4 linked regions of the Homo sapiens genome follow. The protein of the gene in region 1 interacts with the protein of each later gene in a pairwise test. Each region holds a gene or a part of one and is shown in the gene's direction. Other genes may lie near its edges. The genes, in order: KIF1B, MLC1, METTL27 and PARP11.

Region 1 (7,273 bases):
TGTTGACTGCTGGGTTGTGTTCAGGAGGTTAGTGTGTTATGGCGAAATTGTAGTGAAACAAAAGCAGTAAATACGTTTGGGAACTTTATTCTTTTTTTTCTTTTTTTGAGATGGAGTTTTGCTCTGTTGCTCAGGCTGCAGTGCAGTGGCGCGATCTCGGCTCGCTGCAAGCTCTGCCTCCCGGGTTCATGCCATTCTCCTTCCTCAGCCTCCTGAGTAGCTGGGATTACAGGCGCCTGCCACCATGCCCACGTGGATCACGAGGTCAAGAGCTTGAGACCATCCTGGCCAACATGGTGAAACCCCGTCTCTACTAAAAATACAAAAATTAACTGGGCGTGGTGGCACGTGCCTGTAGTCCCAGCTGCTCGGGAGGCTGAGGCAGGAGAATCACTTGATCCCCAGAGGTGAGGTTGCAGTGATCTGAGATCGCGCCACTGCAGCCTGGTGACAAAGGAAGACTCCGTCTCAAAAAAAAAAAAGACTTGGAGGATTTATTTGTTTGGGGTTGATTTAGTTTTAGGTCTAATCTTTATGATTCTTATCTTATGTATTAATAAAAGAAAAATCTCTTTACATTTAATTCTGGCCTGTATCCTCAAAGGGCATGATTTGCTTCTTGCTTTTCTAGCATGGTATGTTAAATTATAAGACTCTTTGCCTCTTTAACTGTGCGCTTCCTTCCTTAGGAATCAGAGAAGATCATTGCTGAGTTGAATGAAACTTGGGAAGAGAAGCTTCGTAAAACAGAGGCCATCAGAATGGAGAGGTCAGGAGGTTAAAATCTGGAAATGTTTCTAAGTTTTCTAGGGGATGTGGATTACTTTATCGTAAGAAAAGATAAAATATAAATTAAAATCAAAGAGTCTGCCCTTCTAAAACACAAAACGAAACCAAAAAAATGGACAGGGATTTATGGCCAGTTGAATTTATGCTTTGAAATGACATCTACATATTTAAATATTATCTAGGGAGTCACAGGTTTATTAGTTACCATATTACATGTTGCTAGGGATTCATAAAAATGGAACATATTGGCCAGGCGCGGTGGCTCACGCCTGTAATGCCAGCACTTTGGGAGGCTGAGGTGGGCAGATCACGAGGTCGGGAGATCGAGACCATCCTGGCTAGCATGGTGAAACCCCATCTCTACTAAAAATACAAAACAAATTAGCCGGGCATGGTGGTGGGCACCTGTAGTCCCAGCTACTCGGGAGGCTGAGGCAGGAGAATGGCGTGAACCTGGGAGGCAGAGTTTGCAGTGAGCCGAGATGGTGCCACTGCACTGCAGCCTGGGTGACAGCAAGACTCTGTCTCAAAAAAAAAAAAAAGGAATAGCCTCTTCTTTTCTTTTTTATATTAATATGCATATCATTTATGAATTATTGACTATCCCAAAGTCAGTTGAGACAAAGTTCTTATCTCAGTGAATATAACTTTAACAAAGCAAGATTTCATTGATTTTGAATGTGATGTTGCTTTTAGAAATAACTTCTCATTAATGATGAGATAAGCACATTATTTTATGTTTGCATTATTGGCTATAAACATGGCCAGTTGTTTTTGCTTTGCAGGCTTTATTTTCCAATTCATATTAGACTGATTTAATTGACATTTTGGTATTAGTGTTCTGATATACCTGTTTTTTTCCTAGAGAGGCTTTGTTGGCTGAGATGGGAGTTGCCATTCGGGAAGATGGAGGAACCCTAGGGGTTTTCTCACCTAAAAAGGTAGGAAACAATGCTGTGAAACCTAATCAGACAGAGACACTTTTTGTTTGTCTTTGTTACTGGGGCACTTCATGTCTTTCAGGACCTACTCTCCCCCTTATTATCTTGATACTTGCCTTAATTTCAGATATTTCTGATTTCATCTTAGAGCATGGTCTTATAGTACAAAGGCAGCCTATTTCTAAAATGCCTATCTTGTTTACTGTTTACAAAAGAAAAAACCTAAGGCAATATGTAACCTTTGGCCATGATTCAGTTTGTTTAGTCATCTTTATTTGTTGCTTTCTCTTAAATTCCCAGCCTAACCTAGCGTACTTTCAGTTTTGGCTACTCTTTCATGTAGATTTTCCCACAGAAGTCGTCTACCCTGCTTTATAACTTTTTGGAACCAATTTCAGCTGTACAGGTTTGTGGAGAATAATACTGCTTCCATTTGCTTCTGCAATTTGTATTATAGACAGCCATTGTACTAAGTAAAGCAATTCCTGTCCCTATCCTTCTAGACTCCTCTGCTTCCTTCTTCATTTTTTAAAAAGTGTCTCCAATAGTTACCTTCCTTTTTACATAATCATAGTTATGAAGTAGTTACGTAGCTTTTAGCTAATTAGAGTAGTAAGGGTTTTTTTGTTTTTTTCTTAAACTAAGTTGCAACGTCTTGTTGGATACTAGAAAATGACTATCAAATGGTTATTTTGTGTGCTTATGTATCAGAAAATAGGAGAACATATATCGATGTACAAAGCATGTATTTTATGCCACTAGTAAATTGTCCTTTATTTCAAGTGACCTCACATTGGCTATTGGAGACTTAAACATCTTTATTCATAGGTTCTGTTGATGATCTCTCTAAGTTAGGATACAAGGGGTGGTGAGTTTTGAATTGGTACTTTTATGTGATATGAAATATTCCTGTGGTTTTCGCTACAATTCTTCTGGTCAGGTTTTTCTATCCTGGCCACATAACTTTTTTTTTTTTTTCTTCCCAAATTCCAATGTGTTATTTTCAACAGAAAAGACTGATGTAAAGACATTTTAGATGCATATTGTAGAATAGAACAGTTAAGTATTTTATATGTTTATATTATGAAAGGTTAGTGGTTTTCACAGTTTTAATAGTTTTTCCTTCAGTAAGACATGTATTCATTCAGATATGTTACTTAGGATTATATAGATTTTAGCAGTTACAGTTTTGGTGGAATTTAATTGTGCCTATGCATATGTCTAATAAAGGTATTTTATAACATCTTACAGTATTAAAGACTGTGAGGAAATTTTTTTTTTTTTTTTTTTTTGAGACAGAGTCTCACTCTGTCGCCAGGCTGGACTGCAGTGGTGTGATCTTGGCTCACTGCAACCTCCGCCTCCCGGGTTCAAGTGATTCTCCTGCCTCAGCCTCCCAAGTAGCTGGACTGCAGGCACATGCCACCACGCCCAGCTAAGTTTTGTATTTTTAGTAGAGACGGTTTCACCATGTTGGCCAAGGGTGGTCTTGATCTCTTGACTTTGTGATCCACCCACTTCAGCCTCTCGAAGTGCTGGGATTACAGGCATGAGCCACTGTGCCTGGCTGGAAAATTTTTATTATAACAACTAGTGAAAATATTATGCATTTAACATAAATCATAAATAACTTGAACAAATGTTGAGATGTACACTGCATGGAATTCCAAAGTGAGATCTCTGCTTCCAAAGCTTTTTCTTACTTTAATTTTACCCATCTTGCTTTAGCTTTCTAGACTTCTTCATGAAAGGAAGGGATATACCAGTGACCACATCCAAACTCAGTCTTAGGACCTGTTTCTGAGATTCCATTTTTCAAATTATGATGTGCTTTAAAGAATGCTACTCACAAAGGGCTTTGACTTTCTCAAACCAGTCAAGTTCTTCAACTACAAAGGGGGATGCTAGTTGAGAAGATGTGGAGGTTTTTCAGATTTCTCTTTAACCATCTTTTATAGTTCCTTTTCCTACCCCCTCATCTGACTCTTCTTTCATTCTTCCACATTTGCTGGCACTCTCTTGAGTAGATTTTGGCCTCAAGACCATGTGACTTATTTTTGGATTCCAGTGGGTTATTTTCACTAAAGAAGGTTGGTTTTTTAAAAAGATTTTAGAAATATTAGAGTTAGATGAAGAGGATTGTTAGAAGATGTTTATCTTATCGAATATCAGTAATTTTACTTTTTTCTTTAAGGTAAAGACTAATAAATTAAAATCTTTTAAGGTAAAGACAAATTAATAACTGGGATCAGAAGAACTGATAAAAATTATAGTGGGAAGTGGTGGGGGGGTATGGGGACATTTTAATAAAAGTAAATATTTCTTGAGATTTTTACCCAGGCATTTACAAAAATTATAATTATTCCGTTCAGAGAATTGGCCTGTCATTTTTTCCTTGTGCTTTGACCTTATCAAAAATTAGGTCTTGTTTTTTTATCCCAGAACTCATGTTTTAAAATGGAATGCCAGGCACAGTGGCTCACTCCTATAGTCCCAACACTTTGGGAGGCCAAGGAGGGTGGGTCAGTTGAGGTCAGTAGTTCGAGACCAGCCTGGCCAACATGGTGAAACCCTGCCTCCACTAAAAATAGAAAAATTAGCCAGGCGTGGTGGCGAACACCTGTAATCCCAGCTACTTGAGAGGCTGAGGCAGGAGAATCACTTGAACCTGGAAGGCAGAGGTTGCAGTGAGTCAAAATCATGCCGCTGTACTCTAGACAGAGCGAGACTCTGTCTCAAATTAATTAATTAATTAAAATAAAATAGAATGCACTTGGTTCCGTTTGGTGAGGCCTGAAGAGAGTGTTTTCTCTTTATTATGGAACCGCAACTAGGGATAAAAAGAAATCCCTCTCTAGGCTCTGTGGAGAGTTGGAGAAGCCTGGCCTCTTGTAGGCCCCTGTTGTTACCACAGCTCTCTCATGGTGCCCTGCTCCAAATTGATCATCTGTAATCTTTTTCAGACCCCACATCTTGTTAACCTCAATGAAGACCCACTAATGTCTGAGTGCCTACTTTATTACATCAAAGATGGAATTACAAGGTATATTTATTTCCTGTTTTGGTCACTTCGTGTGTTTTCCCCCTCTTAGATAATTGAATAACTAAAGGGAAGGGGTTGAAAAAATTAACGTAATGATTTGCTGTATTTTTTGTCTGAAATAGTTACAAACTATGCTCTCTTTCCAAATAATGTGTTTTTGCCACTGGAGCCAGTTACTATGTAGTTTTTCTCTGAAGACCCTAAATAATTTTTTTTTCCTTTAACAAATATACATTCCTTAGGGATTTTATTTGACTCATGTCTTTATAATACTGTATGAGTTACATTGGTATATCAGTGCTCCTTGTTTCTTATTCTGATGTAGAGAGGTTGATCATATGTGAGGATAGAATTCATAGTTGAAAGCTTCTGATGCAACAAGGCAATACCTTTTTTGTACGTACCAAAGGATATTCTTTGGAATAAAGAGGTTCATTGTTTGTAGTGCTTTCTGTGTCTGAATTTCCCTGGGAAACACTTTCTCTTGTGTTCAGGGTTGGCCAAGCAGATGCTGAGCGGCGCCAGGACATAGTGCTGAGCGGGGCTCACATTAAAGAAGAGCATTGTATCTTCCGGAGTGAGAGAAGCAACAGCGGGGAAGGTGAGCATTCCTGGCTGGAGCTTCAGCAACAACATTTTCATTTTATATTATGAGAAATCCTTAAGACTTTGTATTCTCTGTCTATCAGTAGTACTTTCTTATACAATCTAATTCTGAAAAATGGAGAGACCTGGGCTGCTTATGAATGCAGAGATGGACAAGGCTGCTTTACATGAAAATAGCTTGGACAAAAGAAGCCCTTTTTTACTGCCAAGAACTGAGAAGGACATAGGCAATTAGGCTTGGTCTGGAATGTTAATTATTTAATAGAAAAGTAAGAAAATAGCAGATATCCTGGGTAATAGGAGATTTGAAGGACATTAAGTCAACCCAGCAGAATTTATTTTTATCTAAAAGGGAAGAAAAAGTCAGTCTTGATTTTTGCCTGGGTTATTAACAAAACAACAATTTAATGGTTTTTTTCTGTTATATAAGTCACTCATTCCCTTATCAAAATATTAGCTTCTCAGTCTTTAGTTTCTGGTTATTACCTATATCTCATCCTTACAATTTCTGATGGTTCTGAGTTTTATTGACTGAACCGTCAGAGATCCCTGAAACTAATATTTCCTATCATCTTCTTAGGTTTATCAAATAGAGTTAAATGTTCTTGTGTTAGCCATGGCCACAGATAGCCTCTTCTATTGGGGCTAGTTCTGGTACCCCAAAATGAACTACTGTATAGACAACTTCAGCCACTTGATTGATTGCAGGGATTTATTCTACTTACTGCAAATCCTGATAAGCAACTGCTTTCCATTATTTGATTCCAATAGTTTGTAATGATAACATTAGTTTGTGTTTGTTCCTCTTAGTTATCGTGACCTTAGAGCCCTGTGAGCGCTCAGAAACCTACGTAAATGGCAAGAGGGTGTCCCAGCCTGTTCAGCTGCGCTCAGGTGAGACTGGGAGAGGTTTGCCATCTTCAGCAATGTGCACATGGCTTCTGTGACAACTCTAATTTTTGGCTGTTTAAAGGCTGAAGTAATAGTCAGCATTAGGATTTTTGTTCTTGTAAAAACAACAGCTCTGAAAGCTGTCTTTTCACATTAGGGAGGGGTGAGGTTGTTAAATAGATACTATATATTAAAAAAATTATTTCTTAACCCTATTTTTCTGTTTTGTGCTAGGAAACCGTATCATCATGGGTAAAAACCATGTTTTCCGCTTTAACCACCCGGAACAAGCACGAGCTGAGCGAGAGAAGACTCCTTCTGCTGAGACCCCCTCTGAGCCTGTGGACTGGACATTTGCCCAGAGGGAGCTTCTGGAAAAACAAGGAATTGATATGAAACAAGAGATGGAGAAAAGGTAATGCACAGTTACGCAGCCCATATGACTGTTTCTTCTTTTAAACATGTAATACTAATAGCATTCTTGAATTTTTTTTTTTTTTTTTACTTCTAGGCTACAGGAAATGGAGATCTTATACAAAAAGGAGAAGGAAGAAGCAGATCTTCTTTTGGAGCAGCAGAGACTGGTAGGAGTCCTGAATCTGCTAAACTGTTGGGAAAAGGGCAGCTTGTTCCCATACTTTCCCTGTTCCACAGAGCAGTACTCACCCAAATTGCTTCTGTCTCAATGATACCAAGCACTATTCTTTAATTTCCTTAATGGAGAATGAACTTAAATCTCCCGGTAGCCTTAGCCTGAAAAAATAGTCCACAGAGGTACTCTTTTGGGCTTTTTATGTCTTAAAGCCAAATCTTAACTTCTGTTACAACCAAATACTTTTTAAGGAAATAGAGCTTTTCTGGTAGCCTTTGCCTCTTGATAGTGGTTTTGGAATTTGCTTCAGTGGTGGTTCTTTAAATGATAATTACTCTGAATATTGAATTTGGTGAGAGTTTGCCTTGGTTTTGTTTCTGATCACTTGATAGTACTAATTCTCTGCTCTTG
Region 2 (7,273 bases), on another chromosome or scaffold:
GTCCTGCTGTTGCCCAGGCTAGAGTGCAGTGGTGTGATCTTGGTTCACTGCAACCTCTGCCTCCTGAGTTGAAGCGATTCTCCCGCCTCAGCCTCCCGAGTAGCTGGGATTACAGGTGCCCGCCACCACGCCCAGCTAATTTTTGTTATTTTTAGTAGAGACGGGGTTTACCATGTTGGCCAGGCTGTACTCAAACTCCTGACCTCACGATCCGTCTGCCTCGGCCTCCCAAAGTGCTAGGATTACAGGCATGAGCCGCCGTGCCTGGCTGGGAATTCAGCTTTATTTGTGCATCTGGAGTTTTGTGCCTTCTGGACGCAAGGCCTGGCTGCCCAGGTCCCTTCCGGCCCCCAAGCCCTTGCTGGCCCACTCCTTATGCCTGGCTTTCCTGCTGGCCACAGCTCTGTGTTTGCGACTCACAGAGATCCTTCACGGGAGCAGGTTTTCGGGCGTGTGTTTCTTCCCCAGCCCTCCCTGAGTCTGGCGGTGCTGGTTGCGGCCCCTCCCTGAGTCTGGCGGTGCTGGTTGCGGCCCCTCCCTGAGTCTGGCGGTGCTGGTTGCGGCCCCTCCCTGAGTCTGGCGGTGCTGGTTGCGGCCCTGATGGTGCCGGGCAGATGAGTCCACAACCAGGGCTTAGGCCAGCAGGGTTCTTGGCTTTGTCCAGGAAAGAATTCAAGGGCGAGCTGGAGGTGACAGACAGCAGCTTTGTTTGCAGTGGCAGTATAGCAGGGCTCTCCAACCGGCAGGTGCCTCGAGCAGCAGCTCAGAGACAGCTCTGCCTCCTATTTATACCCACTTTTAAGTATATGCTAATTAAGGGGCAGATTATGCAGAAATTTCTAGAAAAGGGGTGCTAACGTCCAGGTGGTTGGATCATTGCCACGGAAAGGGGTGGTGACGTCCAGTGTTGCCGTGGCAATGGCAAACCCACATGGCACGGGTGGGTGTGTCCTATGGGAAGCTACTTCTGCCCCAGGCCTGTTTTCCCGAGTCCCTTCGATGGGGTCCAGGGTCTGAGCACCGCCGCCTGCCACACTGTGAGACAGGGAAGGGAGTCTGAGGGTCTTGGTTTTCTGCCCTCACCACTGTCAGGTCAATACCCTCAGTTTCTGTGGACAAAAGCAGCAGTGGGGGAAACACCTCTTTGGCTATTTTACTCCAGGAGGGACGTGAAAAGCCGCAGCTGAGGGCAGAGGGGGTCTGGGCCAGGTGAGGCTGGGGGTCCATCCAGGTGGGCTCCTCCACGGTTAGATCTGGGGCCAGCCCACTGGACCCTGCTCCTGGGGGTCCATGTCTGCACAGTGCATTCTGGGAATCTGGGGGTGTCTCCACTTCCTTATGAGCCGATGCTGTCCTGTCCCCTCCAGGTCGTCGAGGTAATCGCAGGCATCTCTGCCGTCCTCGGGGGGATCATTGCCCTGAACGTGGATGACTCAGTTTCAGGCCCACACCTCTCAGTGACGTTCTTTTGGATCCTAGTGGCCGTGAGTAACCCCTCTGGCCCGCCCGCCGCCGCTCTGGGCCACACTGCTCAGATCCTGCGTGGCTGGGCCCCGAGCTCAGTCTTGGTGCATTCAGACAGAGAGTCACCACAGAGGGTCCTCGCTGGCCCCCAACTTCAGAAGAACTGGGGAGTTAAGGATTAAATGAGTCAAAGTATTAACTGCTTTTATATTAGTTTGTGTGATTATTTTATATTATTTTTCCTGAAAAAAATACCAATTATTTTTATTATTCTAATCTTTTTAACATATGAATGTCAGGCTGTAGATGTTTATTATTCTATATAATTTTCTAATATATAATGCATTTATATTACACTATGTGTTTCATACAATGCAGCATATTTCTGTTATTACTTTACATTAAATGTTACTGCAGCAGATGTGTCACACAGCACCTGACACATGCCACATGCTCAATACATGGGCATTGTTTTATTTATTTTATTTATTTATTTTTTTGAGATGGAGTCTCACTCTGCCACCCAGGCTGGAGTGCAGTGGCTCAATATCACCTCACTACAACCTCTGCCCCTCCCCGGGTTCAAGTAATTTGCCCACCTCAGCCTCCCAAGTAGCTGGGATTACAGGCGTGGACCACCATGCCCAGCTAATTTTTTTGTATTTTTAGTAGAGACCGGGTTTTGCCATGTTGGCCAGGCTGGTCTTGAACTCCTGACCTCAAGTGATCTGCCTGCCTCGGCCCCCAAAAGTGCTGGGATTACAGGTGTGTTCCCTCAGAACAGTGAGTCTAGAGCAACCCCTCCACACCCCAGATCCCCTCACAGCCTGTAGCCCACCCAGAGCCACCACCCACCTGCCTCCGGACGCAGACCCCACGAGGTTCTCAGCACCTTGCCGCGTAGTGGCCTGCACACCGGTGTTGACGGCCAGCCCCTGGTTTGTCTCATGCTGTGTGGACTTTTAGATTTTGCCCCTGCTCTCTTATGTACATGAGCAGGAATGGTGAGCACCCAGCATCAGCTACAGGCTCCTCCTGGGCAGCAGTGGGGCTCTTCCTGAAGCTGCCGAGGCCCATGCCTGCCTGGGAGCAGTATGGCCAGGTGGACTGCCGAGAAGGGGCCCACGCCTGCCCGGGAATGGTATGGCCGGGTGGACTGCGGAGAAGGGGCCCACGCCTGCCCGGGAACGGTGTGGCCGGGTGGACTGCCGAGAAGGGGCCCACGCCTGCCAGGTGGACACATCCCATTGGCAGCAGCTGTGTTTCAGCTCCCTGTGGGGGCGAGTAGGCACAGAGCAATGCCCCCAGGGCACCAGTGCCCGACCTAGTGGGCTGCTGAGGCGCTCAGAGAGGGAAAGAGACCCAGGCAGGACCGAGCTGGGATAGAGCCACACCCCCGGAAGGGGTAGGACCAGGCCCAGCTACTGAGACAGAGAACTCACATGGGTGCCCACCCAAGCGGGTCTGTGACAGAGAGAATGACGCCTGCAGGTGTGTACAACTGACCCTGGGGTCTGAAACGCAGGGATTACATCCCGAAGCTGAGGGAGGACAGAGACCACATACCTCCAAAAAGTTGAGAATGAAAGGCACTTGCCCTACCCCCTTCCCTGTCCCTGCAGTCAGCCCTCATCACAGAGGCCCCTCCCATCCCGCAGACCCCTCCTGCCTCGGGGGTGGCTCTGCTCTCTCCATCTTCCCGGAGAGCACCCCCTGCCCATCAGGTGCTGCCCCCTGGGCGCCCCTAAATCCACCCACACTCCCAACCCTCTCTTCAGGGCAGGAGACCCCAGGAGGAGAGGAGAGCGCTGAGGCATGCGTGGTGAGGGACCCAGCTCCACCTGCCTGAGTCTGGCCTGGGTGCGGCAGAGGGGCCCAGGCCCTGCACCATGGGCTGGAGGCAGGTGCTCGGGGCTGGAGTTGGGGGCTGGGCTGCAGGCCTGGACCCTTCCAGGGCAGGGCCCTTGATTGAGCTGCCCCAGCCCCTATGGCTGAGCTTCCTGGCCCTCTAGGGCAGGGGCCGGAGTGGCCATGCTGGGTGAACGGGGAAACTCCCGCCCTCCCATGGCTCACTGGGGCCCTGAATAGGCCACCCTGAAGCCACCATCCCTTCCTGTGCCCTCACTGCTGCTTACAGCTAGAAGGCCCTTTCAGAAGCACCAAGCCCAGGAGAGACCCCTGTATTGACACCTCAGCCTCCCTGGCCAGGGCCACACCCACCTCAGCAGCTGGCTTGGGGCCTTTGCACTGGCAGCCCCTCAGCTCCCCAGTCTTCTCCCTGCTGCCCAGGCTCCCCTGCTCGGAGCCCATCTCTGTCCTGCCCACCCTCTCACCACAGCCCCTGGCTGATGCAGCCCCCTCCCCAGCAGGCCGGGCTGGGGTGCTGGCACCTGGACACCTTCGGGGAGATGAAGAGGATGAAGAGCATGCATCCTCCCTCTGCCTACATTGTGCGGAACTAAGGCAGGCTCCTCACAATAAGTGGGAAAAGGGCATTTCTTGGTTATAAAAAGGAAGAGGTGCCCATCCAACAGAGGAACCTACAGATCCCCCTAACCCAGTGAGTCAAGTCAGCGTCATCAGGAAGGGGCAGTCCACACCCTGGGGCACTGCAGAGTCTCCTCCGAGGCTCCCCAAGGCTCATCATGAGGAAATCCTGTCCCACACGGAGGCCCGACTGCAGCTGATGGGCTGCACCCCCCAGAAGCGACCAGGTAACGGAGGTGACAGAGGCTGAGGGACTCCCCGATTAACAGGGACCCACAAGGAGACTACGAGCTCAATGGCAGACCGAATCCGGATCAGGAGCAAACAAACAAACAGCTCTAGAAATAACATGACCAGGGCCAGGTGCGGTGGCTCATGCCTGTAATCCCAGCACTTTGGGAGGCCGAGGCGGGCGGATCACCTGAGGTCAGGAGTTCGAGACCAGCCTGGCCAACAAGGCGAAACCCCGTCTCTACTAAAAATACAAACATTAGCCTGGTGTAGTGGTGGGTGCCTATAATCCCAGCTACTCAGGAGGCTTGAACCTGGGAGGTGGAGGTTGCAGTGAGTCAAGATCGCGCCACCGTACTCCAGCCTGGGTGACAGAGCAAGACTCCATCTTAAAAAAAAAAAGGAGAAGAAGAAAGAAAAATTATTAAAAAATTAAAAAGAAAGAACATGATGAGGACAACTGGAAGAATCTGGGCATGGACCACATCGGCCCCACGTGGAGTCTCTCGAGCGTGGTCCTGCTTTGGGTGTGTGCAAGAGTGTGCCCTGGGCTCAGCCAGCACTCTCAGGTGTTCAGGCATCAGGCTATCTGGGAGAGCTGGAGAGAGCACAGATATGAATGTCAAGGACTCTGGTGATTTTGGGGCCTCAGATGCCCCCTCCACTGCTCTTGCAGCTTTTCTACAGGCTTAAAATTTTAAACCAATGGTTGAGGAACAGAGAGCACACAAAACCTCTGAGAGGCTACCCCTGCTTCCCTGCGGACCCGTCCCTGCCCCAGCTGCGCCTTTGGGCACTGCACCATCCCCCCTGCCCCCCACAGCAAGCCAGCCAGGCAGCCTGCATGGAGGGGTCACTGGTGGGAGGGCACATGTTTGGAATTCGACTTCTTCGACTATTTCCTCTAAAATCTTTCCTTTTTCTTTTCTCTTAGTGCTTTCCAAGTGCCATTGCCAGTCATGTGGCAGCAGAGTGTCCCAGCAAGTGTCTGGTGGGTGAACCCCTCAGCCCTGGGTGCCAGGGACCCACCGAGCGGGGCCAGGGCCTGGCCTAGCCCTCCCTTGGTGCCATGTGACCAGGCTCCAGCCCAAGAGAGCGCAGTGACTGGGCTGCAGGGCCTGCACAATGAGGAAGGTGGGGTTGTGGGAGGTGGAGGCTGGCCCGCTCAGCAGGGACTGTTCTCAGGGACAGGCAGACCTGAACAAGGTGGTGTAGACACTGGAAGCGCTCTCTGTGCCTAACCCTTGGAAGGAGACCAGTGTCTGAGCATCATCTGCACCTCCTAAGGCTGGTCGATTGTTTTTTTTTCTTTTTTGAGATGCAGTCTCGCTCTTGTCCCCCAGGCTGGAGTGCAATGGCACGATCTTGGCTCACTGCAACCTCCGCCTCCCGGGTTCAAGTGATTCTCTTGCCTCAGCCTCCTGAGTAGCTGGGATTATAGGCGCCTGCCACCATGCCCGGCTAATTTTTGTATTTTTAGTAGAGACGGGGTTTCACCATGTTGGCCAGGCTGGTCTCGAACTCCTGACCTCAGGTGATCCACTCACCTCAACCTCCCAAAGTGCTGGGATTACCGGTGTGAGCCACCACGCCCGGCCGAAACTGCCACAAACTGACCGCAAACAATTGAACTGGTCGATCGTTAATGACTGCTGCCAAAATGTGGACCCTGAGTGCTTTGCAAGGTGACTGCCCATGCTTGGCATGAGTGAAGGCTGTCTCTGAGACTTGATGGGTCAAACAGGAAGATTTGGGGTGGGTTAAAAGGACAGACTTCAGAGCAGTGAAGGAGGTGACCCATGCGGAAGGGCTATTTTTTCAAGAGTGGAGAATTGCAGGTAAATGTTTTTTGTTTCTTGGTTTTGTTTGTTTGAGACAGAGTCTTGCTCTGTCACCCAGGCTGGAGTGCAGTGGTACGATCTCAGCTCATTGTAACCTCTGCCTCCCGGGTTCAAGCGATTCTCCTGCCTCAGCCTCCCAAGTAGCTGGGACTACAGGCATGCGCCACCACACCCGCTTAGTTTTTGTATCTTTAGTAGAGATGGGGGTTTCACCATGTTGGCCAGGCTGGTCTCGAACTCGTGACCTCAGGTGATCCGCCCTCCTCGGCCTCCCAAAGTGCTTGGATTACAGATGTGAGCCACCTTGCCTAGATGGTAAGTATTTCAAAACTTGTGGCACTGTGCTGTGAATGAAAAGGCAGGCTGCTCATGCCTGTAATCTCAGCACTTTGGGAGGCCAAGGTGGGTGGATCACAAGGTCAGGAGTTGAAGACCAGCCTGACAATATGGTGAAACCCTGTCTCTACTAAAAATACAAAACAATTAGCCAGGTGTGGTGGCGCATGTCTGTAATCCCAGCTACTCAAGAGGCCGAGGCGGGAGAATTGCTTGAACCCAGGAGGCAGAGGTTGCAGTGATCAGAGATTGTGCCACCGCACTCCTGCCTGGGCTACACAGCTAGGCTGCCTCTCAAAAAAGAAAGAAAGGCAGGCCGGGCGCGGTGGCTCATGCCTGTAATCACAGCACTTTGGGAGGCCGAGGTGGGTGGATCACCTGAGGTCAGGAGTTCAAGACCAGCCTGACCAACGTGGCAAAACACGGTCTCTACTAAAAATACAAAAATTAGCTGGGTGTGGTGGCGGGCGCCTGTAATCCCAGCTACTCGGGAGGCTGAGGCAGGAGAATCACTTGAACCCGGGAGGCGGAGGTTACAGTGAGCCAAGATCATGCCACTGCATTCCAGCCTGGCGACACAGCGAGACTTGTCTCAAAAAAAAAAAAAAAAAAAAAGAAAAAGAAAAAAGAAAAGGCAGAGGTTTCAGCAGGAGTCATGCAGGGAACCAGCTTGGGACTATGCCCATGAGTGCCCGGCCATGCCCGCCCCCCCAGCCCTGGCCACGCCCGCTGTCCTGGGCTCCCAGGCTCCGGCCGTGGTCCTGCAACCCGCGCTTTTTTTCCAGGTGGAGGTCCTGATTGCCATAAGCAGCCTCACGTCTCCGCTGCTGTTCACAGCCTCTGGATATCTGTCATTCAGCATCATGAGAATCGTGGAGATGTTTAAGGATTACCCGCCAGCCATAAAAGTGAGT
Region 3 (7,295 bases), on another chromosome or scaffold:
CAAGCGATCCACCTCAGCCTCCTGAGCAGTTGGGACCACAGGCACGTACCACCACACCCAGGTAATTTTTGAAGTTTTTTGTAGAGACAGGGTCTTCCTATGTTGCCCAGGCTGGTCTCAAACTCCTGGGCTCAAGCGATCCTCCAGCCTCGGCCTCCCAAAGTGCTGGGATTACAGGTGTGAGCCACTGCACCCAGCCAATGGATCATTTTAATACATCTCCCACCCCAAACTGTTTTCTCTTCCCCAAGCCCCCAAGCTCCCTCTGTCACTTTGGCAGCAACTAGACTTGGTGGGAGGGGAAGCTTGATATCCACGGCCCGTAGTATGTAGGGTCCAGCCCTATGGGGCTTAGCGGGTGTTCTCCCCGTGTGCGGAGATGAGAGATAGTAATAAATAAAGACACAAGACAAAGAGATAAAGAGAAAACAGTTGGGCCCGGGGGACCACTACCATCAAGATGCAGAGACCGGTAGTGGCCCTGAACCGGCTGGAAGTGCTGATATTTATTGCATAGGAGACAAGGGGGCAGGGTAAGGAGGGTGAATCTTCTAAGTGATTGACAAGGTGAAGCAAGTCACATGATCGTAGGACAGGGGGCCCTTCCCTCTTAGGTAGCCGAAACAGAGAGAGAGAAGGCAGCATACGTCAGCGTTTTCTTCTATGCATTCATAAGAAAGACCAAATACTTTAAGACTTTCAGTATTTCTTCTATCGCTGTCTACTACGAACTTCAAAGAGGAACCAGGAGTAGAGGAGGAACATGAAAGTGAACAGGGAGCATGACTATTGAAGCACAGCCCCACAGGGAGGGGTTTAGGCCTCCGGATGACTGCGGGCAGGCCTGGGTAATATCCAGCCTTCCACAAGAAGCTGCTGGAGCAGAGTGTTCCCTGACTCCTCCAAGGAAAGGAGACTCCCTTTCGTGGTCTGCTAAGTAACGGGTGCCTTCCCAGACACTGGCGTTACCGCTTGACCAAGGAGCCCTCAAGTAGCCCTTATGTGGGCGTGACAGAAGGCTACCTCTTGCCTTCTAGGTCACTTCTCACAATGTCTCTTGAGCACCTGACCCTATACCTGCCAGTTATTCCTAGGTTATATTAGTAATTAAAAGCTAATGATTAATAATGTTTATAATAATGATTGATAATTGTCCATGATCATCTCTACATCTAATTTGTATTATGACTATTCTTATTCCATTTTCTTTATTATACTGAAACAGTTTGTGCCTTCAGTCTCTTGCCTCGGCACCTAGGTAATCCTCCGCCCACAGGAGTGAGAGGGTCATTTTCAGCAAAAGACACAGAAAAGGCTTTGAGGCTCCAAAAACTTAAGACTTGAGGGGAGTAAAGGATTAGAGGCAAAAAAAATAAAACTTGATGAGTCAGAGAAAGGCCTTCCAGCCCCAAGGCTAGAACAGGCTCCTGGGCCAAGGAGGAGAAAAACCGGAGGAGGCTTGTGCTTTGAGGTATTTCAAGATGTTTCAGGCACATCTCATACTTTTCCTGCCCCAAGCGTTTCAGTCATTTCATCAGCTGTTTCTCTAAGGAGCTCTGGTTCCTTTTAGTTGATAACGCTTTTTTTTTTTTTTAAAGAGATGGGGTCTCGCTGTGTTGCCCAGGTTGGAGTGCAGTGGTGCAATTTCTGCTCACCGCAACCTCCGCCTCCCAGTTTCAAGCGATTCTCCTGCCTCAGCCTCCTGAGTAGCTGGATTACAGGTGCGTGTGCTACCACTCCCAGGTAATTTTTGTATTTTTAGTAGAGACGGGGTTTTACCATGTTGGCCAGGCTGGTCTTGAACTCCTGACCTCAAGTGATCCACCCGCCTCGGCCTCCCAAAGTGCTAGAATTACACACATGAGCCACTGCACCTGGCAAGAATGCATTTTTAGAACCAGATCTGGATGCTCGTTGTGGTGATTACTACTGAAGCGTTAATTGTGTTTAGGTCATTTTGGCAGACAAAGCTAGGAAACTCACAAATACACACACATACATGTATGTCTATTTACATATCTTTCCATTTATTTATGTTAAAACCCATGAGTTTACTCTAATATCTCCCACTCTCCTCCAACGCTACAGGGTTCCTTCTACTCATCACCCTGTAAAACCAGAAAATCTAAGACAGGTCTCAGTTAATTTGGAGAGTTTATTTTGCCAAGATTGAGGACGCACGCCTGTGACACAGCCTCAGGAGGTCCTGACGTCATGTGCCCAAGGTGGTCGGGGCACAGCTTGGTTTTATACATTTTAGGGAGACACGAGACATCAATCAATATATGTAAGAAGTACATTGGTTTTGTCTAGAAAGGTGGCGACAACTCGAAGCAGGGAGGGGGCTCCGGGTCACAGGAAGGTGAAAGACAAATGGTCCTATTCTTTGAGTTTCTGATAAGCCTTTCCCCTGTAATCTCAGCTACTCAGCAGGCTGAGGCAGGAAGTGGAAGTTGCATGAGCTGAGATTGAGCCACTGCACTCCAGTCTGGGTGACAGAGCGAGACCCCATCTCATAAAAAAAGAATGCCTTCACCATCTGGGAATGCAGTCCAGTAGGTCTCAGTCTTATTTTACTCAGCCGCTATTCAAGATGGAGTTGCTCTGGTTCAAACATCTCTGACACTTCGACACTTCTACCCCCTAAACATCTCTGAAGATCACCCACTCCTCTCCGCAGTCATGACCTCTACCCAAGGTCATGCAACCATCACCTCCTGCCTGGACACCTGCAACAGCCTGCCAAATTCTGCCTGCCCAAACCCTTGATTCCAACACAGGTCCTCTAGACCAGCGCTTCTGAACCTTCAGCTGCCTAGAAATCGCCTGCAGAGTTTGTAGAAACACAGAAACTCTGGGCCCCAGTCCCAGAAATCTAATTCTCATTCAGAAGGTCCCAGGTCAACTGAGAATTTTTACTTTTTTTTTTTATTTGAGATGGAGTCTTGCTCTGTCACCCAGGCTGAAGTGCAGTGGCGCAGTCTCTGCTCACTGCAATCTGTGCCTCCCAAGTTCAAGCTATTCTCCCACCTCAGCCTCCTGAGTAGCTGGAATTACAGATGCCCGCCACCACGCCCGGCTAATTTTTGTATTTTTAGTAGAGATGGGGTTTTGTCCTGTTAGCCAGGCTGGTCTCAAACTCCTGTCCTCAAGTGACCCGCCCACCTCAGCCTCCCAAAGTGCTGGGATTACAGGTGTGAGCCACTGCGCCCCGGCCTAATTTTTGCATTTCTCACAAGCTTCCCTAGGGCATCTCCTAGAGGAAACCAAGATGTTACGGAGGCTGACGCTGCGTATCTTCAGGTCACACTTCCAGCCGCAAGACTCTCTCTGCTGTCCAATACAGTAGCCACTAGCCACATGTGGCTATTTAACTTATTAAAATAAAATTTGCCAGTACGGTTTTTTAAAATAAAATTATTAAAATAAAATTTGCCAGGAGGCAGAGGTGGGAGAATCGCTTGAGACTAGGAGTTTAAGACCAGCCTGGACAACATTTTTTGTCTCTACAAAAACTACGAAGATAAAAATAAATAGATAAAAATTTAAAAAGCCGGGCAAGGTGGCATGCACCTGTAGTCCCAGCTACTCAGCTACTCAGAAGGCTGAGGCAGGAGGCTGGCTTGAGCTTGAGTTCAAGGCTGCAGTGAGCTATGGTCAAGCCACTGCACTCCAGCCTGGGCGACAGAGTGAGACCCTGTCTCATAAAACAAAACAAAAATAAAACAAAATAAGTAAATATAAATACAAAGTAAAAATGAAAGCTAATCCTAGGTCCCTCTCCTGCCCATAAGAATTCAGAGACTCCCCAGTGCCTACAAACCTCATGCTTTCAGGAAGCATAAAGGACTTCAGGAGGCAGGAGGGCAGTTGGAGGGGGATGGTGGAGGTGCTGCTACCTGACGGTGGAGGGGGAGGCCGGGGCCAGACCACCGAGAAGCCCCTAAACCCGCACAGCAGGAAAACATCTCCGCAGTCCCTGCTCTACCAAGGCTGGAGGAGGGCCACAAGCCTTGAGCTCATTGGCTGGCGGGGGGGGGGGGGGCGGGCAGACTGCCAGCGCCTTCCTTTGACTGGCTATTTTCTCTCAGCGGAAAACCAATCATTGCGGGCAGGCGGTGAGGGTGTGGCCAGGGTCGCAACACAGGCCCCGCCCCGAGTCCTGTTGCCCACACGCCCGAGGCGCGCTGGATTGGCGGTGAGTTCTGACTCCGGCCTCCTTCGAGACCGTTTCGCTCCGGATGTCGCCCACCTCCGACCCTCTCTCAGTCGGAGGGCGGAAAAGAGGAAGATAGGTCCTTCCTCCAGCCGCGGGGCACCCCCTTCTCCCACCTTGCCCTTCCCCCAGCCCTGCAGCCCCAGAGTGTAAATATCCAAGCCCGCCCTCTCTGCGCTCAGTGTCCCCATCTGGGATAGGGGCCGGGATAGGGGTCGCGCTGGCAGGAGGCCTGGCAGCCTCCTCTGAAGGGGGAGGAGGGAAGGGGGAAAGGAGGGGATGGGCGATTGAGGTGGACCTCGAGACAGGGCAACGGTGTCCCCACAGGAGCATGGCCCAGGAGGAGGGTGGGAGCCTGCCCGAGGTGCGGGCGCGGGTCAGGGCCGCGCATGGCATCCCCGACCTGGCCCAAAAGCTCCATTTCTATGACCGCTGGGCTCCGGACTACGACCAGGTAAACTCATTTGGGGCCTTGCCTCCACTAGACCAGCCTCCATTTTTCTACCTGTAAAGTGGGGAATCAGCCTTGCACCCGGGGGCGGCTGTGAGGACGAAGTGAGGCCTGGCTAAGAACCCTACAGTCCTGCCCCTTCCAGAACCCGCCCCACAGCTCTGGATTGGCAGCCCCATCAGGGGCCATGACCTCCTGAGGGGGGCTGCCTGGAGGAGGTGCTATTGAGAAGTCACTGTGGGGCCGGGCGCGGTGGCTCACAAGCCGTAATCCTAAGCCCTTTGGGAGGCCGAGGCGGGCGGATCACCTGAGGTCAGGAGTTCGAGACCAGCCTGGCCAGCATGGTGCAACCCTGACTCTACTAAAAATACAAAAATTAGCCAGGCCCACGTGGTGGCAGGCGCCTGGTAATCCCAGCTACCCTGGAGGCTGATGCAGGAGAATTGCCTGAATCCGGGACACAGAGGTTGCAGTGAGCCAAGATCTCTTCACTGCACTCCAGCCCGAGTGACAGAGGGAGACTCTGTCTCAAAAAAAAAAAAAAAAAAAGTCATGTGGACTCAGCAGAGAGAGCCGCTTGGCCAGGAGAGAAGGTCCCTGGAGGGCTGAGTCTACTGTACAGTGGGCTGGGGGCTAACTCTCCAGTCCTGGCCCTTTAGCAATGGGAAGCACCTCATGCCTGGGCGTCCCCTCACGCTAGCCCCAGCCAGGCTTGATCCCCAACACACACAGCTTAGCCTGGCAGACTCTGAGACCACCCCATAAGGGAGATCCCCCAAACACTGGGGCACCGGTGTTGTAGGCCCGGCACTCTTTCCCCAGGATGTGGCCACCCTGCTGTACCGTGCGCCCCGCCTCGCAGTGGACTGCCTCACACAAGCCCTTCCAGGCCCGCCCCACAGTGCCCTGATCCTGGACGTGGCCTGTGGCACAGGCCTAGTGGCTGCCGAGGTGAGGCTCTTCCAGATCCCCTGCCTACTCCTTAGCCCCGCACTTCCTCAAATCTCCTACTGCCCCTGGCCCCAGAACCCTGCCCCACACCTCAGACTCACTGTTTCAAATGCATGAGACAGGACCAGGCATACTGTGGCTCACACTATGGGAGGCCGAGGCAGGAGGACAGCTTGGGGCCAGGAGTTTGAGGTCAGCCTGGGCAACATAGCAAGACCCCTGTCTCTACAAACAGATTTAAAAATTAGCCAGGCAGGGTGGTGCACGCCTGTAGTCCCAGCTACATGGGAGGCTGAGGTGGGAGGATCACTTGAGCCCGGAAGTTCAAGGCTGCAGTGAGCTATGATCACGCCACTGCACTCCAGTTTGGGCGACAGAGAGAGACCTTGTCTCAAAAATTTAAAAAAAGCAAATGCATGGGCCACATTCAGTGCAGAGTCCACTGCCCTGCCAAGGTGCAGGGACCCAGCCGGGAAGTGGCAGGTGTGAACCATGACTGAGTCTCCCACCCCTACCCCAGCTGCGGGCTCCAGGCTTCCTCCAGCTGCATGGGGTGGATGGGAGCCCAGGGATGCTGGAACAGGCCCAGGCCCCCGGCCTCTATCAGCGCCTCAGCCTCTGCACCCTGGGCCAGGAGCCTCTGCCCAGCCCGGAAGGTACTTTCTCTCCCACCTCCACACCCCGAGGCCCACCCTCATGAAGCCCTTTCCCTTGCTGATCCTCCATCCCTCTCCCACACTAAGCTCCCAGTCCCTCACTCAACCCTGCACCCCACGATCTGACTGCAGCCCAGAACTGGGCCATACTTACCTTATCCTCTAGGGGACCTGGGTCCTGCAGATGCGGGTAGTAGCCTCGTCCCACCCCTAGGGTGGTCTGAGGCCACACCATAGACAAAGTACCTTCCAAGCATCACACCATGTCCCCACCCCCCCCCACACACACACAGGGACCTTCGACGCGGTGCTGATAGTCGGTGCCCTCAGTGACGGCCAGGTGCCCTGCAATGCGATACCTGAGCTACATGTCACCAAGCCAGGTGAGGAGCAGCCCAGCCAACCACCCCCAACCCCCGTCACCATATACCTTCCCCTGTGCATAGTGCAGACACAGGCCCCAGAGCCCCTCAGGCTAAGCGAGGGGCAGCGTCCTGCCCAGCGTCACACACAGCCTAGCCTAACATCCCAGCCACCAACAGCAGACCCAGGCAAACAGGCCGGGCAGACAGGTGGCCAGCTCGGCTCTTATCCATGGACAACCAGGAGCAACTCCACCCTCCTCTGCAGCCTCCTTTTCCCAGTCTGGGAGTCAGGTGGTATAAATGCTACAATCCAGTCCCCGTAGGACTGCAGTGAGAATCAGGTGAAATCCTGTCTCTAAGGTTTTTGCTTTGGTCCTGACCCACAGTGAGGGCTCAGTTCTGTTCCTTCCTCTCACTGCTTCCTCACTCATTCATAGACTGCCTTTGGAGCATCTCTTTCTCTTTCCTGGTCTCAGTCTTCTCATCTGGGAAATGGGGCTGCTCAGGGGAGATGAGAGCTGTGAGCACCGTTTGTAAACTTTGCACATTGCGCTGCCCGGGCAGGTGTGTTTCCCGTCTCCTGCTGTGTTCTTGCTCAGCGCTTTGTTCTGCTCTGGGCAGAGGGCTCAGACCCTGCCCTCTGGGCCTTGATCTCC
Region 4 (7,273 bases), on another chromosome or scaffold:
TTCTATGTGTATTGATCACATCTTTATGAAGTTTTTTTATGTCTCATAATTTTTTTGTTGAGAACTGGATATTTTAAGTAACATAGCAACTCTGGATACTGATCCCTATTGTGGTTGTTTGTTTGGTTATTGGTTTATGTGTATATAACAGTGATATAGCTGAACAAATTCTGTAAAGTCCATTTTCCTCACAGTGTGTAGCTTCTGATATCCCAGCTCAGACTTTTCCCCTCTTAACCTGACTACTTATGTGGCATTTCTGGATTGGCATAGACTATGTACTGGTCACAGGTTGTGCTTACATTCCCTGAGGTAGGTAGATTTTTACCCTTAAGTGTTAAATGTGTGTGTGGCTTGGTGGCTGCTATTATAGTTCAGGGAGTTTACATTTTTTTTTGTCCTGCATTTAGCCAGGTGCTAGAAGCTTGGAAGTTAGTTCCTGAGAGGGCCCAACCTTGAGCATGTACACAGTGTTCCAGACTGTCAGGGATGACAGTGCTGTTTCATTTAACCCTGGCTTCATAGGAATTACCCCTGGGTCAGAGTAGCTTCTGTTACGTCGTGTTTGGCCAGAGGTGGTGATTCAGACCCTTGTGCCAATGAAGTTTCTCCGCTCTGTCAGTGGGTACGTGTATAGCTTAGAGAACGTTTTCAAGACTGCCCCACGTTCTGCCCTGATCATTCCTGGGTGTACACAGCCTAGTGTTTTTATACTGCCTTTCTGACTCCTCTCTGATCTAAGAGGGCTCTTCTTGGCTGTCTCTGGTTCTCTGCATTAAACTTCTGCTTGCTCTGCCTTTCTGCTTATATTGGAGCTCCTAGCCTTTCTTAATTGTTTTTCATTAATATTTCCACTGTTTTCTTTCTTTCTTTTTTTTTTTTTTTTTGAGATGGAGTGTCGCTCTTGTCGCCCAGGCTGGAGTGCAATGGTGTGATCTTGGCTCACTGAAACCTTTGCCTCCTGGGTTCAATCAGTTCTCTTCTCTCGGCCTCCTGAGTAGCTGGAACTACAGGTGCACGCCACCACACCTGGCTAATGTTTTGTATTTTTTGTAGAGTTGGGGTTTCACCATGTTGGCCAGGCTGGTCTCAAACTCCTGGCCTCAGGTGATCTGCCCATCTTGGCCTCCCAAAGTGCTGGGATCACAGGCATGAACCACCACACCCGGCCCACTGTTTTTGATAATGCCCTTAGGCATGGGGTTCTGCTCTCTGTTCCAAATAAAGTCAGTCCTCTCAGATGGAAATGTAGAGCTCTTTGTCCTTATGGCTCGTCTTTACCCCTGAGCAAAGTCTCCATGCCACTGCTCCTGGGGCTGAAGGTGAGAGTCTTTTTTCCCCAGAGTAACACTCCATTCTTAGAGTGGGCAGTGGAGTGCTGGTAGCAGCCCTTGGTCTTCTTAGCTGACTGCTCCTGGCACAAAACCTCTACTCTGGGAGGAAGTTGGGGCGGTGGCAGTCAGGGCCCAGTATTTGCAGCCTGCTGTACCTGGAATAGAAATTCTACCTTTTGAATGGGGGCTGTGTAGGGAAAGAGAGACGGGTCCTCTGTGTCACCTCTCCAGAACAGAGCTTCTACACCTCTGGGCTGAAGGAGAGGAGAAACACCAGCAGCCTGCCCTTCCCGGGGTAAAACTAGCCACAGACTGGAAGCCTGAGGGAGAGGGAGCCCTCTGCCTGTCTTTTGGGTACATATACCGCAGGTAGAGGCTTCATAATACAGACCTGGTAGGATGTGGGGAATGGTGCAGTTTGTAACTCAAACGCCACAGACTCTGACTTGTTCTGAGATTGAGTACATTTTCTTGAATGAATGTTTCTCCACTTTTTGTATGCCCTTAGTACAGTTTCCAGAGACTTTAAATGTTTGTTTTTTAAAAAAATTTTCAGCAGTTTTTAATTTTTAATTAATTAATTTTTGTGAGGCAGGGTTCTGCCGTGTCAAGCTGGAGTGCAGTGGCGTGATGTTAGCTCACTGCAGCCTCAAACTCCTAGGCTCAAGTAATCCTTCCATCTCAGCCTCTCAAGGGGCTAGGACTATAAGCATGCATCAGCATGCCTGAGTAATTTTTATTTTATTTTTTTGTAGAGATGGAGTCTCACTGTGTTGCCAGGCTTGCCTCAAACTCCTGGCCTCATGCAAACCTCCCTTCTCAGCCTCACCAAAGCCCTGGGATAACAGGTGTGAGCTACCACGCCCGGCCTACTAGTTTTTAAAATGTAGTTTTGCCAGTTCCACTGAGCTCCTTATTCTGTCATTCTGGAAGTTCTCGTTCATTTTTAAGCTTTTAAGATCAGGTTTGAGATCTTCTTTATATGTAGAGGCAAGGAAGTTGTTATTACCAAATATGATTTCCTGAAGATACTATACTCATGCTAACAAAATAAATTATACTTTGTTGTAGTAAACTAAAATTTATATCAGAAAACTTGAAACCAGTCTGGAAGGCAGCCTTATTTTCCTTATATAGACCAGGATTTTGACTTTAAACTCATTTTCCACACAGCTTTTCAATTTGATGATTCAGACTGACTGTTCCCAGGCTCTGTAAATAAAGATTCTCTTTGTAACAGATAACATTACGGACAGGCTCTACCAGCATACCCATTGCCCTTGAAACTTTACAAAATGCTTTGCCGCTTTGTACTAGCTTTTTCTTCTTCCCAGCCTGCTTCTAATTACAAACAGGAAAATCAGACAGGATATGGCATTGTGACTGAACAAGTTCATTCATCTAACATTATTAAATACCTGCTTCATAACCGATAACTGGTGAATATTCTTTTTATTACCTATAAATGTGTCCTAGCCTAGAGCCATTCTTACTATGGTTGCGATATTTTAAAGTTATTAATTTAAATTTGACTTAACTCTTTGAGCATAATTATGCAAAATAGTCATTTCTTTGGAGAGAAAACTTACTGTAGAAAATGGAAATGTTTAATCTTATAAAATGCATCTTTTTAAAGAAACCCAGAGCATCTGTGAAGCAAAGCAATTAAACTAAATGTTAGCAACATAGGAGAGGAGAAATAACTGTCCATGTGTGAAAAGGAGACAGTGGGGCTTGGTAACTTAGGGGAAGAAGTGATGTTCAGGAGGCCTTAGGTGTTGCTTTAATATTCTCTGTACTGCTAGCTGTGAATCTAGACAAAAAATTGTATTATTCTCTGCTTCGGTTTTTTTCCTGACTTTAATTGGAAAATAATCACTTATCTCTCCTGCACATTGGATTGTGGACGAAAAAAATAGTGTAATTTGATAAGGAATTGTATAAGATTTGAAGTGCTTTAGGAATGTTCAATACAATGGTACCTGTCCCACCCAAAGCGATTTATAACAGAAAGCTCTGAAAGGATGTTGCTGAAACACTTTCATTTATAACCTGGCCTAAAGCGAAGTCTTAGGTAAGGTGTTTTATAGCGGAGCACACATGTTATATGTATGCTGTATAAAGGGAACTTTCCTATTTTCTATTCTCTTTTCTAATAGAGAAAAGATAGAACTCGTAAGGCAAATATTTTTCTTAACTATTAGCTCCAATCTCATTCTTCCAAATTTTTCTGGTTATTTTCAGAAGAAAAACTAAATTTAGGTCACACTTTCTTTCCTTCTCTCTTTCTCACAGTTAAATGGCCCAATGAAATGAACATTAATAAAAAAAAGCAGTAGGAATTGTGAATAGTTTACTGGACAGTTTGGTCTTAAACTTTAAATCATTGTCTTTATTATGTGGTTAAAATATATAAGGTAAATAGTGGGTCCTAAACCAGAAGGCTTTGATCCTAGGGTGTTCTATTTTTCATTTCTTAGAAGCCAACCAAATTTAAAACATGAAGAAAAAAATGGGAAATAATCATAAAGCATTGCTTGAGTTTCCAAACATATATAAAAAATAACAAACCCCCTTCATTGAGGTCAGGCACTGTTATAAATGAACTTGTCTCGTTCATTTATAACATTGTCTCATTCATTTATAACAACATCCCAATGAGGAAGGAGTCTATCATTTTTCATTTTGTGAAGAGCCAACTGTGGCCTAGACAAGGCAATTGAAACTTATTCCAGGTTGCTACAGCTTCTAAAAATAGGATGGACATTTTAAATGATGAAATTAAAAGGCAAATATTTTCTAAATTACCCAGTAGTACATATTCTTTGTTAAAAAAATCAATGATACAGGAAATCAAATTTTTAACAAATCATCAATAACTCTATATGTTTTTATGTGTGTATAATTATACACACACAAACAGAGTGAGAGAGAGAGAGAGATCTGAAAGATATGCAGTGAAATTATAGCATTGGCTAACCCTGGAGAAGAAAAGTGAGAAGGTACCAGGAATGGAAGTGATGGTTAAAAAAGTCTTTAGCTTTATTTTGAAAGTTCTGATTTTTTGCAAGAAGAATATTTTTTATGTAGTAGTTGTATAAACTTAATAATTTAAAAACCCTCAAAGAATGAGGACAGGAAGCCAAATTCCAGATTGAGTTTAATTTTCTTTGACCAGCCTCTTTGTCTCCTTTCTAGAGACTTCTTCATTACAATACCCAACCAAGAATGTTTAAAACTTTTCAAAGATAATGCATATGTGAGTTAATTGGTATAGCTAAAATTATGAAATCATTGATAATGAAGTATAAGACAGTATATGACGGCGGCTAAGTGCGTAGACCCTGAAGCCAGGATGTTGGGTTTGAATCTTGACTTCCTTGTTGTATGACCTCTCTATGCCTTAGTTTCCTCATTTATAAATTTGGGGTACTGATAGTACCTGTCTCTAGGTTGTTGTGAGACCTAAATGAATTTTCATCTGTGTAGTCCTTAGAACAGTAGCTGGCACGTAGTAAGTAATATAAAGGTTACTATTATTGTTATTGTATCCTGACACTTAGAAAAACTGGTGGTAGATTGTTATATATACATCCAGACTTTTTTCTATATATGTGTGTAAACATTTACATACACTTACACAGATACAGGCACGTTCACAGGAGTAAGTATATTTTTATTAAAATTGGATTATACTATTTCTATTTTTTTGTAATCTTTTACACTCAACACCATATAAATATCTTTCTATGCCATTAAATGAAATGACTGTTTAAAATAAAAATTAGATGCATTTGATCTTAACCAGCGTGATAGCATGGGTCCTTTTGACCAAATACATGAGCATAAGATAAAATTGAAAATGCTTGGGGCTATGCTGAAACCTGAAGTGCTTATTGATGTTGATATAGCTTACTTAAATGGTTGAATAGACACTGGCATATTCTACCTAAGATTATTATTACTTGCCTAAATTGTTAAGCAATGATGTCCAACATTTTTAATGTTTATCTTCAGAGCCAATATGAAAGATAGAAAGCTGTTTTTAAAGTGTCATGGGAGGAAAGACACTTGAATACCACTCTTTGTAAAGAAGTAAAATGATCTGTAAAAAGTATACTTGTTATTAATAGAATTATTTCTTCCTCCACCTCCTTCTGGCTTTTCAGGAGATGTTTCACAAAGCAGAAGAATTATTTTCTAAAACAACAAACAATGAAGTGGATGACATGGACACGTCAGATACCCAGTGGGGCTGGTTTTACTTGGCAGAATGTGGGAAGTGGCACATGTTTCAGGTACCTCCTTTCCTTTAATTTAGCAGAAGTGTTTTCGATTCACTTAGCATCACCTTGCTGATGTATGTAAAATGAGTATAAATATAGAACTTGAAGTCAAAGCTTAAGGAAATAAAATTGTTTAACTAAAAGAAAAGTTAGAAATTCTTCCAGTGCTTTTCCTTTTCTTTTCCCCAAGTTTTCACACTCATTTATTTAGAAGAAACAATAGAGGGTGAATGTGACTGAGAGTTGCATGGTGTCAGTACATCTGAGCAACTCCAAGTTTGGTTTGGTGGACAAAGAGAAAGGGAAGAACAAATCCGTATTAAACACTTCTGTATGCCAGGTATTATGTTAGGTGTTGTACATTGATTTTCTCCCTTATCCTCACAGTAACTTGGAAGCAGATGTTAACATTCTGTCTTACAGTCAAGGAAAGTGAAACTCACAAAAGTTGACATAATTTGTCAAGGGTCACACAGCTAGTTAAACTGAGATTTGAATCCGCACTCAAAACCTGTAGTCTTTTTTTTACTCTACTAAACTATATAAAGAAGATTTAACTTGAGCCACTTAGAAAGTATAATTATTGGAATAATCTGTAAAAATTGTAATTATCTGGAAAAATAACTATATTTCTATATATATCTGTTATTGAAGGGGACTATAACCAGTTGTCTCTTCACTGGAGATCCTTAAACCATTTTCAATATGCTGGCTTAGTTGTGATTCTCCCTGTGTGTTGGGAACTAGAACAGGTGATTAGTAAGTTTCCCTCGCCCCTCCATTCCCTGTCTCTATGACCACAGTACCACCTCTGTGGCCAAGTCATTAATGTGAACAGCTGGTAAATGAAACTTTCTGGTTTGTCTTAAAGCCGGATACCAACAGTCAGTGTTCAGTTAGCAGTGAAGATATCGAAAAAAGCTTCAAAACAAACCCTTGTGGCTCCATTTCTTTTACTACTTCCAAATTCAGCTACAAGATAGACTTTGCAGGTATGTTTTTTTCCCTAATAGTTGTGTGTTTTTAGTATATTGATATGATAAAATCTACAGCTCTGAAGGTCAGGATTAGTTGATATATTTGCAAACAGTGAAGTATATCTTTTTTGTTATATACAAAAATACCTCTATAAAAATTCAAGTTTTAAAATCTTGAGCAACATTGCCTTTTATAAAAGGTGTGTTTATATGTTTGTATATATTAATGTATGTGAAGATTGTCTTATATATTAAGTGCATTTAATACTTGTCTTCTAAGGAACACAAAACACCGTATCAGTTGTTTTATTCATCCCATCAGTCTTTTGAAATAGATAAGAACATTTAAGAACATTTTTACTTTTTTTTTTTTTTTTTTTGAGACGTCTCACTGTGTTGCCCAGGCTGGTGTGCAGTGGCATGATCTCGGCTCACTGCAGCCTCCGCCTCCCGGGTTCAAGCAATTCTCTGCCTCAGCCTCCCGAGTAGCTGGGATTACAGGCACCCGCCCCCACACCCGGCTAATTTTTTTGTATTTTTAGTAGAGACAGCGTTTCATCATGTTGACAAGGCTGGTCTTGAACTCCTGACCTCCTGATCCACCCGCCTCCACCTCCCAAAGTGCTGGGATTACAGGCGTGAGCCACCTTGCCTGGCCAGAACTTTTTTACTTTAA

The links.
Region 2: the proteins of KIF1B (region 1) and MLC1 interact in binary tests that used the Homo sapiens proteins (3 or more experiments, as listed by UniProt).
Region 3: the proteins of KIF1B (region 1) and METTL27 interact in binary tests that used the Homo sapiens proteins (3 or more experiments, as listed by UniProt).
Region 4: the proteins of KIF1B (region 1) and PARP11 interact in binary tests that used the Homo sapiens proteins (3 or more experiments, as listed by UniProt).

What each region holds. Positions count from the first base shown.
Region 1 is NC_000001.11:10,290,393-10,297,665, forward strand, and holds part of KIF1B (kinesin-like protein KIF1B), read left to right. Parts: intron 1-689; coding exon 690-769; intron 770-1,654; coding exon 1,655-1,730; intron 1,731-4,693; coding exon 4,694-4,773; intron 4,774-5,267; coding exon 5,268-5,374; intron 5,375-6,189; coding exon 6,190-6,273; intron 6,274-6,504; coding exon 6,505-6,685; intron 6,686-6,781; coding exon 6,782-6,854; intron 6,855-7,273. UniProt on the Homo sapiens protein: Has a plus-end-directed microtubule motor activity and functions as a motor for transport of vesicles and organelles along microtubules.
Region 2 is NC_000022.11:50,068,427-50,075,699, reverse strand, and holds part of MLC1 (membrane protein MLC1), read left to right. Parts: intron 1-1,367; coding exon 1,368-1,484; intron 1,485-5,116; coding exon 5,117-5,173; intron 5,174-7,144; coding exon 7,145-7,267; intron 7,268-7,273. UniProt on the Homo sapiens protein: Transmembrane protein mainly expressed in brain astrocytes that may play a role in transport across the blood-brain and brain-cerebrospinal fluid barriers. Regulates the response of astrocytes to hypo-osmosis by promoting calcium influx.
Region 3 is NC_000007.14:73,839,393-73,846,687, reverse strand, and holds the start of METTL27 (methyltransferase-like protein 27), read left to right. Parts: upstream 1-4,171; 5' UTR 4,172-4,198; exon of another isoform or gene 4,199-4,365; intron 4,366-4,543; 5' UTR 4,544-4,547; coding exon 4,548-4,670; intron 4,671-5,489; coding exon 5,490-5,618; intron 5,619-6,138; coding exon 6,139-6,274; intron 6,275-6,567; coding exon 6,568-6,657; intron 6,658-7,295.
Region 4 is NC_000012.12:3,828,249-3,835,521, reverse strand, and holds part of PARP11 (protein mono-ADP-ribosyltransferase PARP11), read left to right. Parts: intron 1-5,503; coding exon 5,504-5,632; intron 5,633-6,491; coding exon 6,492-6,612; intron 6,613-7,273. UniProt on the Homo sapiens protein: Mono-ADP-ribosyltransferase that mediates mono-ADP-ribosylation of target proteins. Plays a role in nuclear envelope stability and nuclear remodeling during spermiogenesis. Inhibits the type I interferon activated signaling pathway.